3 linked regions of the Homo sapiens genome follow. The protein of the gene in region 3 purifies or fractionates together with the protein of the main gene of each other region. This does not show direct contact. Each region holds a gene or a part of one and is shown on either strand. Other genes may lie near its edges.

Region 1 (3,646 bases), on a different chromosome or scaffold from region 3:
GGCTGAGGCAAAAGAATTGCTTGAACCTGGGAAGTGGAGGTTGCAATGAGCTGAGATCGTGCCACTGCACTCCAGCCTGGGCAACACAGGGAGACCCTCTCTCAAAAAAAAAAAAAAGAGAAATAAATAAAAACAAAAAACTGATTGAGAAACACGGCTCTAGGCTCTCCCTCCAGGCTGGTGGACACAGCATAGGGAAGCCCAGAGAGACCATGGTAGTGACGGGGGACTAGGGATTGAATTATGGGCTTGGATACACAGCCCTCAAGGTCTTCGAGGTGGGGCCCACTCCTGGGTGCTGTGGCTTCTGGGACCCTCAGGGCCTCCAAGTCCTTCTGCACCCAGCATATCCTGGCAGTGGGGTCTCATCTCTGATAGCAGAGGCTCCTGTGGTGGCTCAGAGCTGTCACCACGTGTGGTTTCCAGATGGGTCACCTACGCATCTCCCCGGAGCCTGCTAGAAATGCAGCACCAAGCGGGTGCGGTGGCTCACTCCTGTTATCCCCGCACTTTGGGAGGCCGAGGCAGGTGGATCTCGAGCTCAGGAATTTAAGCCCAGCTGGGCAACATAGTGAAACCCTGTCTCTACAAAAAATGGCAAAAAAAAATTAGCTGGGCATGGTGGCATGTGCCTGTAGTCCCAGGTACTTGGGAGGCTGAGATGGGGGGAATCACCTAAGCCCGGGAAGTCAAGGCTGCAGTGAGCCGTGATCATGCCACTGCACTCCAGGCTGGGCAACAGAGTGAGACCCTGTCTCAAAAAAAAAAAAAAGAAAAAGAAATGCAGCACGCTGGGCCCACCCAGACCTGCTCTAGCAGAAGGCCTAGAGTGGTGCCCGTAGGCCTGTGTTTTAACATGCTCTGCTGGTGGTTCTGATGTGGGCTAAGTATACACAAATCACAGGTTAGCTGAGTACGTGGGGCATCTTGTTCAAATACAGATTGTCATCCAGCAGGTCTGGGGAGGGGCCTAAAATTCTGTGTTTCTAACAAGCTACAGCTGATGCTGGGGCTGCCCCCCTGGAACCACACTTTGAGACACGAGGCTACAGATCAGAAGTTGCAATGTGGCCACCCCATGGCTGACCACACCCCAGGGATGGCTCTAGTGTAGTTGGATTTGGCATAATGAGGCAGGTGTCACACTTGGTCTCCATACAAGCCCTGCTGGCTTCACACACCGAGCTTCCAGCCAGGTCTCTGTAGACTTCTGAGTTTGCAACCTCTAGTCTGGATGAGAATGCTCTGTTAACCAGAACCCTCAGCTAACAAGACACCCATTCCCTACGGGCCCTGATGGCTGCTAAGTTTACTGAACTTTTGGGGGGTTGGAACGTATCTTGAATGCATCCAGGTCTAAATTGCCTCCTTCATCCCATTTCCCAGATGAGAAGATCCAGGAAGATAAATGGCAACCATATTAGTCCAGGTTTTCTGGAGAAACAGAACCAATAGGATATCTATCTATGCAGAGAGAGAAATGTATTTTCAAGAATTAGCTCATGCGATTGTCGGGGCTGGAAAGTCCAAAATCTGTAGGGCAAGCCAGAAGGCTGGAAACCCAGGCAGGGTTTCTATGCTGCAGTCTTGGGGCTGAATTCCGTCTTTGAGAAACCTTAGTCTTTGCCCTGAAGGCCTCTGATCAATTGAATGAGGGCCACACATAATGGAGGGTAAGCTGCTGGACTCAAAAGTCTACTGATTTAATGTTAACTGCATCTAAAAACTACCTTTATTTGACCAAACAACTGGTCACCAAAGCCTTGCCAAGCTGACACATAAAATTAACCATCATAGCAATCTTTAGTTCCTAGGAGATCTGTCATGGGGCAGGAAAACAGGGTGTTAGGGCAGGAGCTCTGGGCTAGCCCTTCTTAAGTGTGGGAGCTCAGAGAGCCCACCCCCACCCTGTCAGCTGCAAGAGAAGGGTGAAGGTGGGTGTGGCCATGCTGATGGAGAGATAACCATAATAAAATGAGAATAATAATGCCTGTCCCAGGTCCTTGAAATTCTATAGCTTCACAACATCCCCAAATGAGGTGTTATCATCAGCACTCCCATTCTCCAGGTGAGTAAACCAAGGCTAGGAAGTTGAATCACTTACCCACATGGTTCTGGTCCTCTGGCTCCCAGCCCAATACCACTCTACCTATTGGGCCTCCACTAATGTGACTCTGGACAAGTCATTGGTCCTTCTGTGTCTCAGTTTAGTTTTCTCATCCAACACATGGAAATTACAAAATGCTTGACGCACTGCAGATACTGGCTCAAAATGAGAAAAACCTCTCCATGGCTTTCGGCTGTTCTCAGGACAACATCCAGGTTCCCTGATGAAGCTCTCAAAGTCCCCTCCCTCACACTTTTGGCTCTAGCTCTGCTGTTTGCCACACACAGTTTCAGCAAGTATTTTTCGTGCCTCCCTAATTCTGCATATGCTGTTCCATCTGCCTGGAATGCCCTTCCCCCTTCTTCACTTAGTGATTTCTTTCTTCAAACTCAGCTCAGTAAAACCAAATGCAGCCGGGCATGGTGACTCATGCCTGTAATCCCAGCACTTTTGGAGGCTGAGGTGGGCGGATCACTTGAGGTCAGGAGTTCGAGACCCAGCCAACATTGTGAAACCCCATCCCCACTAAAAACACAAAAACTAGGCAGGGCATGGTGGCTCACACCTGCAATCCCAGCACTTTGAGAGGCCGAGGCAGGTGGATCACAAGGTCAAGAGATCAAGACCATCCCGGCTAGCATGGTGAAACCCCATCTCTACTAAAAATACAAAAATTAGCTGGGCGTGGTGCACGCGCCTGTAGTCCCAGCTATTCGGGAGGCTGAGGCAGGAGAATCGCTTGAATCCAGGAGGCAGAGGTTGCAGTGAGCCGAGATCGCACCACTGCACTCCAGCCTGGCAACAGCAAAACTCCGTCTCAAAAAAAAAAAAAAAAAAAAATCAAAAATTAGCCGGACATGGTGGCGGATGCCTGTAATCCCAGCTACTCAGCAGGCTAAGGCAGGAGAATCACTTGAATGGGGGTGGGGTGTGGAAGTTGCAGCAAGCTGAGATCGCGCCACTGCACTCCAGCCAGGGCAACAGAATGAAACTGTCTTAAAAAAAAAAGCACTATGCACCCACCCCCACCCCCAGGACGGCCAAAATTTTAAAAAGCTGACCATACCATGTGTTGGCAATAATGCAGAGCAACTGGAACACACACAGGTTGCCAGAGGGAGTGGAAATTGGTGCAACCACTTAGGAGAAACATTAGTGCCCAACGAAAACACTCACGTATGTTCACCCAAAGATACACACAGGAATGTTCATGGCAGTGCTAATCCAAATAATCCCAACTGGAACTCCCCACCCAAACCCCCATGATTGGAAGAAGGGAGACATAACTGGTGAATGAACACACAGCAGACCACATACAGCCAACTTGAAGGAAGAACACAGGTAGCAATAACACGGATGGGTCTCACACGTGCTGTGTGAAGGGGGCCAGAGAGAAAGGAGTATGTCATCCTATATGATTTCACTTAGGTGCCCTTAAACATGGACAAAACAAATCTATGCTGCTGGAAGTCAGGATAGCAGTAGGACACGTGGACGGGTGTTACTGACAAGAAGGGGACACCGGGGGCTTTGGTGCTG
Region 2 (3,646 bases), on a different chromosome or scaffold from region 3:
ATGGGTGTTTTTTTCTTCTTACCAAATAAAAAAAAAAAACAGTTTAATTACATTATTTTCAAATGTTTAAGTGCTTATGATGGACACTCCACATGTGATTGGATTCTAGGGGTTAGTAAAAGAGTACACAGTGCAATTTTCCTGGTGTTTTTATATGTGCTCATATCAAGATGCTACAAGAACCCAAAACAAACTGCCCATAACAGTTGGCAATGGTTGTGTGTTGTATGCTTTCATCCTCAATCAAAGCCATACAAGTCTCTTCAGAGGTGCAAGGACATGAACAAATACACATACATCACTTACTACAACAGACTGAAGTTGTTTCATAAAGGAGTTATGTTTTGCATATAAGAGAGAGGAATATAAATCACTTGTGAGAAGGGCAAGGGTATGGCTTGTGAAATTCAAAAATAAAGCAACCCAATGTAAGTAATATCAACCTAAGAAATCTGGCATGAGAAATGTAAGGGCAGGAAGTCCTCTTGGTGTGGAGATGCCTGCAGACCACGGAGGTCTCTTATTCTCATTTTGTTTGGTTTCCCTTTTTTGCTCCAGCCCAACAGAGTGCTATGGCAGGGTGTCCCCAGGCCTGGCTGTCCACCATTGGCAGTGATGCTCATGGTGGAAGGCAGCACGTTCCTAGAGCTTCTTGGGCAATGGATATACTTGTGTTGGAAACAACCCCGCCATGGGATTCTGCTCCATCCTCAAGGGCTTGCCTTTGCCACCTTTGAGGATCCGGGGGATGTGTCTGTTCTCCTCCCCCACGCAGTATTTCAAGTCCACTGGAAATACAAATGGCCTCATTTCATTCTCTGGGGGAAGGAATGGAATATCTGAGCCATGGTTTATTCGATTGGCTTTTAGGTGTTGGTGAGAACAGATGCGAAGTCCTAGTCTCTGGTCTCGACTAAAGATTCTCTGAATAGAGCTTCATGGGAGCACTCAGTGTTTTTTGTGTTTTCTGATGCTCATAGACATTATTTCTTTAGAAAGGGAGACAAGAGGCAAGTGGGAAGGATAAAAAAGTAGACAGCAGAAGCGCCAAGCAAAGAGAGGGTAGGCTCTGAGGCCCAGTCTGCTCTCCCCCTGGCTACTTGCCACACCACAGAACCAGTCCTGAGACAGCAAGGACACAAATGCATATGAGCAGAAAGCGGAAAAATGCTGCCAGGCCATCCACAAGCAGCCTTCTCTCTGTGCAAGAGTTTTCAGCTCTTTAGGTCCAGAGGAAACCACTACACTAGAACAAAGCAGTGGGTAATCTCACCAATTTTACACAGCAATTCACAGTCCCTAAAGTACTTTAATGCAATGACAGGTTATGAGAAAAAATATCTGTTCCAATGAAGGGAAAGTGTTTTACATAATTGAGAAGAACATCAGTGCAACATTGGTGGAGGTGGGGGGTGAAGACAGAAAAGGAAGTAGGAAGAGAAGAAAACTTCTGTAATCCCACAGAGAGCCATATTCTACTCTGCAAAAAGCCATCTCCTGGAGACCCCATGTCTAAGTAACTGAAAATTGCAAACCATTAATCCCAGTTATGAACAGTTGTTTTACACGAGGGGGGTTTGTGTTAAAAAAAAATCAAATCCACAACATACCTTAAAGCTGAAAAGAAGATCCATCTAGGTATGATACCTTAATAGCGAGGTTTCAAAAACACTTTCTTTACTGTAAAGGGCCCCATCTGGAAGGAGTGTGCTGTATGTATTTTTTTTCTCTATAAATGTGAAATTAAACTTAGAAAGCTAAAAAACAGACGAGGGCCTTAAAAATTCCCTTCTAGCACTATGTATTTCTTTTTAAATATGAGATGCCTTTCATTTTACAAGACTGGAATTCTCATTTTGGGCTTGGCACTCTAACAAATGATTAATTCAGCCTCCTTTTTTTCTGAGAGCTGACCACATTTGCTGGTCAAACAGTTTAATCCTATTTAAAATGCAATCCAAGAAAAATATTTTTAAGTAAAAATAAAAATCCATGATCCTTTGAAACTGTTCACCTTGGCTAAAGACATTCCATTTTCCTGCAATCTTGATGTAAATTTGAATTTTTGCACCTACATCAATGATGAAATTCAGCTTTGGAGGAAAGCCAGGGGGAACCTATCTTCCTAGAGTTGAAAAATTAAATTCCCAACCCCAAAACTTATGCCCAGAGATTGCCTTCACTTTTCTAATTCTTTGGCAGAGACCGTGTCTCGTCTGTGCTTTGTAACACTCTGTTGGCATCGGCAAAATGTTACGTATCAGTGGTCATAAAAACAAAAATGGCATTTGAATGGAAGTTTTGTGAAATCTGTTGATTCAAAGATGTTAATCATTTTTACCATGACTTGTTTATTTATAGCCTTTTGTTTCAAACAAATTCTGACAAGCTTTTAAAACTAAGTAAAAGAGCCAGCACGCTATTTTAAAAAGGAATGAAAAAAAATAACAAGCTTTCCACCACTAATTCACTATGCCATTAGAAACCCGAATTTAAACTGCAGTTGTATTTAATTTAAATGAGATGTTTTCTAACTAGATGAAATAGTAGGCAATTGTGGCTCAGAAACAATGCAAGGTGGGAAGAAATAAAGAAATATAAAGATTAAATGTGGCTGTTTCTTTCAACAGATGGTGACAGCACCATGGCAGCATGTTGTTTTTTCTTTAGTTGAAGAACACAAACATCCGTAATCAATCATCACTGATTAACTAATTATATTACCCTTCCTTTTATCACTTGGGTTGGACCTTTATCCATAAACACTGAGGATAATCGGTATGCTCTTATTTTTCTGGAAGTATATTCTAGTTCACATACAGTCGTGCAGTTACAGGCTGCAAACAGAATTCTACATTACCGTCCACCTTTAAGCACTATTGCTTTTTTTCATTTTTAATTTTTTTTTTTAAACAAAAGCAATTGGTTTCCCACAGGCTGGATAATAAGTCTTTTGACCTGCATTCTTCTTTGACCCATTAAGGTCACCCCTGTGCTCGGGCATATAGCTGACTTAGGAAATGCCTGCAAGTCCTACATTTCATCTCCTGCCCACTCAAAATAAAGCTTTCTTTAAATGTGTCTGTACGGGTCCCTGAAGGCCAAAGAGGCATCCCTGTAGTGGGCAATGGAGGGACAGAAGCTTCTGCCTTTATTAATGAATGCAGACCATTATGAGTCTGGCTGGCTCCTTCCCCGTTCCCAGAAGCATATACTGTACGTGACTTAAAATGCTAGAATATTGACACAAAGCGAGCTGGGCACCCCTAAGGAAAATTACTCCTTGGATATAATGTAGGCTCCTAACAGCTATTAGAGTACAAAATAAAACCCTCCGGGATCAGACTGACATATACCGCATTCTACCTAGTCCTCAAACATTAGAAGAATTTCTTTGTGAAGGCATTCTCAAGGACAGCATTAAACTGACTTTTGTAGCAATCTGCAACAGCTTTTTGGCTTAGAGCTTTTAGTACTAAATCTCTGGTTCGAATCAATATAAGTACTATATCTTCTACATTAATCAATATATTTGGTTCAATACATATTCTATTAAATTATACTTTCTAATCAAGATTTTTACATTTCCATCCTCTCTCCTTTTCATTCCCAACTTCTTATGCTAGTAAAATAGTTTTAAAAGTGT
Region 3 (4,302 bases):
GTCAAATCGATTCCCACAGAGGATAAAACCATCTCTAGCAGTCTTACCTTGTTCCTCGGTGGCTTGGGAGGCTCTTTCTACTATCATTCTAATTCTTTCTACCTATAATTCTAATTCTCTCCAAGAGGCTTTGCAAATAGACCGTTCTGACCACAGTCTCTCACTCAGATGCTAGCCCAACTGAAGGCTGGTTCACCTGAGGGATACCTCCTGGGCAGCTGGGCTCTTTCAAATGCAGGATCTTCCCTGTATTAGCTTAAATCCCCTAAAATCACGAAACAATTTCGTGAAACTGGCATATTTCTCGAAGCAGAGGAGAAAATAAAACCACCCTAAATCTTACCAAATATAATTAACTTTAAAACTCATCAGACAAGCGACAACTTTCCATATGGCTGGGCTTGAGTGGAATTCGAATCCCAGGGAAAAACATCTCCACAATTTCCTGTAACCCTCAAGAGAGAAGCAGCAAGTCTAGGAAAACAAAAGCAAGAACGATGAAGAAAGAGGCACAAGAAGCATAGTCAAAAAGAAGAGAAGGCCCCTGATGGATCTGGATTCCACATTCTAGAATGACTGCCCCAGGACAGACCAGAAGCTGGGAAAAGCCTAAATAAAGAGCCTCCAAACTCAAAGCAGCCAGGCATAGCCAAGGTGCCCCCCGTCCCTGTGGAGTCAGGCCCAGGTAGCCACACCGTGAGCTTCCCCCTAAACAAGCAACTGCAAAGCCGTTCCCAGGCCCCAGGGAGGGCCTGTCCCCAGACACAGGGAAACCCAGCCAAGGGAACTCCCAGCAAGGTAAGGAAATGGGCGGAGAGAAAGCTGGCAGGTGAGGTGGCTGGAACAAACTGGTCTCATCAGGGAGGCCTGTGACAAACCCGCCTATTCCTCCGCTTTCCCCGCTGTATATTTTGGATTTCACAGTTTATTTACTTTACTTTTTGGCACCGAGCCCCCTGAGCATGCCAATACAATATTTGTTTAAACACTATTTTATGCTGCTTGCGAGGGAAACGTTTACTTTCAAATTCTCCTACATCCCCCAGAGCCTCGTCTGCAAACAGCCTATGAGCGTTTTACAACTGCTCCCTTTATCTGAAGCTGTCGGGATTAAACCTTCACACGCCCGGCAAGAGCGGCGGAGAGGGGGCCCGGGACACCGCTGCGGCCACCGAGCTGCAAAGCCCGTGCCAGAGGTCGCGCACCGAGCGGGATGCCCGGGCTGGGGGACAGAGGGACGCCTACAAGACTCCCAGGGCGCGGGACCAGACAGTAGGGACAGGTCTACTTTTCCAGCTGGGATCAACTCTAGGAGCCACAGAACAATTACACAAAAGAGAAGGTAGTGGAAAGAGGCACCCTCGGGGGGGCTCGAGGTCCCCGAGAGCCTCAGCGACCGATCACCCAGGGTGAGGCGCACGGGCTCCATCCCCAGCTCCCCGCGCGGTAAAAGTCGGGTTTCCTAGGAAATGACAGCAGTTACCGCCGGGCTGAAAAGGCGCCGAGCTGGGTGGACTCCCAGCTCTCCAGCGCGGCGGGCGCGCTCACACTCACACACGCAAGCACACGCTCCCTCCCAGCTCCCCGCCCCCGCCCCGTCCGGGGAAAAGACTCCCCTCTCTAAACCCTTAATAGGATTGGCGCCCAACTCTCTCCGCGCCTCTCCCCATCCATCACATACAGATCAAGTTGCAGTAGTGGATTTTTCAAATTCCTCAGCAAATATACTTGTTGAGAGATTGTCGGGGGTGGGGAGAGACGATGAGTAGGGGGGCAGGGATGAAAGTGAGGTGGAAGGGGGAACCGGAGGACCCGGCAAAGGATTACGTGCGGATCCCTTTGGGAAGTCAAGCGGATCTCAGGGCCGAGGGCAGGAGAGGAGGAGAAGAGAGGCAAAGAGGGGGGGCCGAGGAGGAGAGCCCAGCAGAGGGGGAGGGGGCGGCCGGGCCGGGCGAGGGGGAGGAAGGATTGAGGAAGGAAGAAAGAAAGGCAGGGCTCCGGGACGCGCAGCGCGGAGAAGTGGAGTTCGAAGTTCTCAAGTGGCTGGCTGCAGCCCCTCCGCGCTCAGTACGCCCGCAGACACGCTCCCATGCCCACCTACGGCAGCTTCGGAGCATCCCAGCCTCCGATCCCACCCTCCACCCCCTGAAAAAACAGACCCCCGCCGGCGCGCGGAGGCCGGCTCGCTGTGCACCCCGAGAAGAGTGGTGCTCTCCCCCAGGTAGGGAGAGGGTGCAACATCGACCTCTGGCCACGAGCTCCAAGCCCCAGGACTCTCCTTACGTCCCCGCCCTGCTCGTCCAGAGCCCCAGGCGGGGTCGCGCCTACTAGCCTCTAGTCCCCCGAAGCCCAGGGCCCCGATCCCAAGGCCTAGGCGCCGGTACCCGGCCGAGGGACCCCCCGAGACGGCGCAGCATCCCAGTCGGCCCGCGCTTGGCCGAGGTGGGAGGCGCTTCGTCACGAAAAGCAAGCAAAAGAAGGCCAATGCAACTTTACCGAGAGAGACAAAAGTTTGCCTCTAGCACGCAGGTGGCCTCTCGGGCGCCGGGCGGTGGCTGTGGGCCCCCATCCCACCTTGGCTGGCGCGGCGACCCTCGGCTGGCTGCCTTGTGCCGGGGCTCCAGCCAGCCGGGGCGGGGCGGGCCAGGCAAGAGAGGGGACCGAGAGGCGGGCGGGCGCCGCGCAGCCCCTACCGCCGGCGAGCAGGCGGCTCCCCGAGGCTGCGGCGCGCCGCGCGGCCCAAGCTCTTTCCTCCGGCTCCTCCTGCGGCTCCTGGCCTTCCTCCGCGTTCGCAGTCGCAGCCGCCGCCGCCGCCCGCTCCTCCTCGAAGTCTCATTGATGGGAGTTTGAAAAAAAGTCCGCGGAGCCGTGCTGCCTCGGCTGGCAAGCGCCGGCACTTCTGCAATCCATCAGCGCCGCCGGACTGCGCAGCGCCCCCGCGCGCACGGTGCGGGCACACCCGGGCCCCAAGAACCCGCCAGCCAGCCCGCCCGCTCCCTGCCGGGGGACGCAGGGGGACCCGAACGCCGCCGGGGCGGGGGGAGGGGAAAGGGGGAGCACAGGGACTCTCCCCACCCAGCACCAAGGAAAGAAAACGCACCTACAAGGAAAGTTCGAGAAAGGAACCAAAGGACGCGCCAATCTCCGACACTTTTTTTAGACGACTAGGTGTGGGGGGGGGGGTTGGGGGTGTCGCTAACTCAAGTCAGATGAGCTCCGGAGCTGAGGGGCAAGGGCTGCTCTGTTTTCAATCTCTGAAATCCCCCCGCCCTCCCCACCTCCCACTTCCCTCCTCGGGGAGATGCCTGGGTCGCTGTTCCCAGGGCGCCCGCTTCTCTGGACGCCCGCGCGGAAGCCGGGGACGCCAGAGAAGGGACGCGGGGGCTGGGTCCACGCGGACCCTCTTCCCGCGGGCAGCGAGCGCAGGTGCCGGGGGTCCTGAGGCGTCCCCCGCCGCCGCTAGCCCTCGTCGCCATCTGAGCACACGCTGGCGAGAAACGAAGCAGCCTTCTAGGTTTGGTGCATGTGGCTTGCAGGGTGGGTTTTTGTTTTGTTGTGTTGTGTGTTTTAGAGACTCCACTCGAGCCGCTGAAGCCAGATGGAAGTAATCAGAACCCAACAACAACAGAGAAAGAAGGAAGAAAAAACTCCTCATTGAATTTTCTAGCCAAAGTGTATATGGGGCTGTGTGTGAAAGAACTTGCTTAAGCAAGCTCAGTGAGGAGCCCTGGGCCCTCAAGCCACACCACAGCCCGGAACTGGGCCGCCAGGCTTGGAGGAGAATTGGGGGCAGCTGGCTAAAGTGTCCTCCCCACACCCCCGGGCCTGCCACCCTCTCCAGGGCCCCTGGGCCTCACCCGAAGAGGGTCTTGGGGGGAATTTCTGGTTTTATTCTTCCTAACGTTTGTAGAACACTCTACCAAGTGCCAGGTGATGTTATATTTTCTTTGTATTATTGGACTTTCACAGCTCTGTAAGGAAGGTTCTCTTCTCGTGTTTTTACAGGTGGGAAGTCTGATGCTTTAAAAAGTTAAGTAACTAGTCTAAGGTCAGAGCACTCTGCCATCCTCCCAGAGCTTCGGGTGGTTGTACTGTAAGTTCAGTTAAATTTGCCCTGTTGGGCCGGGCGCGGTGGCTCACGCTTGTAATCCTAGCACTTTGGGAGGCCGAGGCACGGGGATCACCTGAGGTCAGGAGTTCAAGACCAGCCTGGCCAACATGGTGAAACCCCGTCTCTACTAAAAATACAAAAAATTAGCCAGGGATAGTAGCGCGCGCCTGTAATCCCGGCTACTTGGGAGA

What was found.
Region 1: the proteins of GLI2 (region 3) and CPNE2 purify together in Homo sapiens (co-immunoprecipitation; one large-scale study listed by IntAct). This does not show direct contact.
Region 2: the proteins of GLI2 (region 3) and ZNF521 purify together in Homo sapiens (affinity purification with western blotting, with the first as the bait; one study listed by BioGRID). This does not show direct contact.

What each region holds. Positions count from the first base shown.
Region 1 is NC_000016.10:57,099,077-57,102,722, reverse strand, and holds part of CPNE2 (copine-2), read right to left. Parts: intron 1-3,646.
Region 2 is NC_000018.10:25,065,610-25,069,255, forward strand, and holds part of ZNF521 (zinc finger protein 521), read right to left. Parts: intron 1-3,646. UniProt on the Homo sapiens protein: Transcription factor that can both act as an activator or a repressor depending on the context. Involved in BMP signaling and in the regulation of the immature compartment of the hematopoietic system.
Region 3 is NC_000002.12:120,734,480-120,738,781, reverse strand, and holds the start of GLI2 (zinc finger protein GLI2), read right to left. Parts: upstream 2,915-4,302; 5' UTR 2,497-2,914; intron 2,222-2,496; exon of another isoform or gene 1,121-2,221; intron 1-1,120. UniProt on the Homo sapiens protein: Functions as a transcription regulator in the hedgehog (Hh) pathway. Functions as a transcriptional activator. May also function as transcriptional repressor. Requires STK36 for full transcriptional activator activity.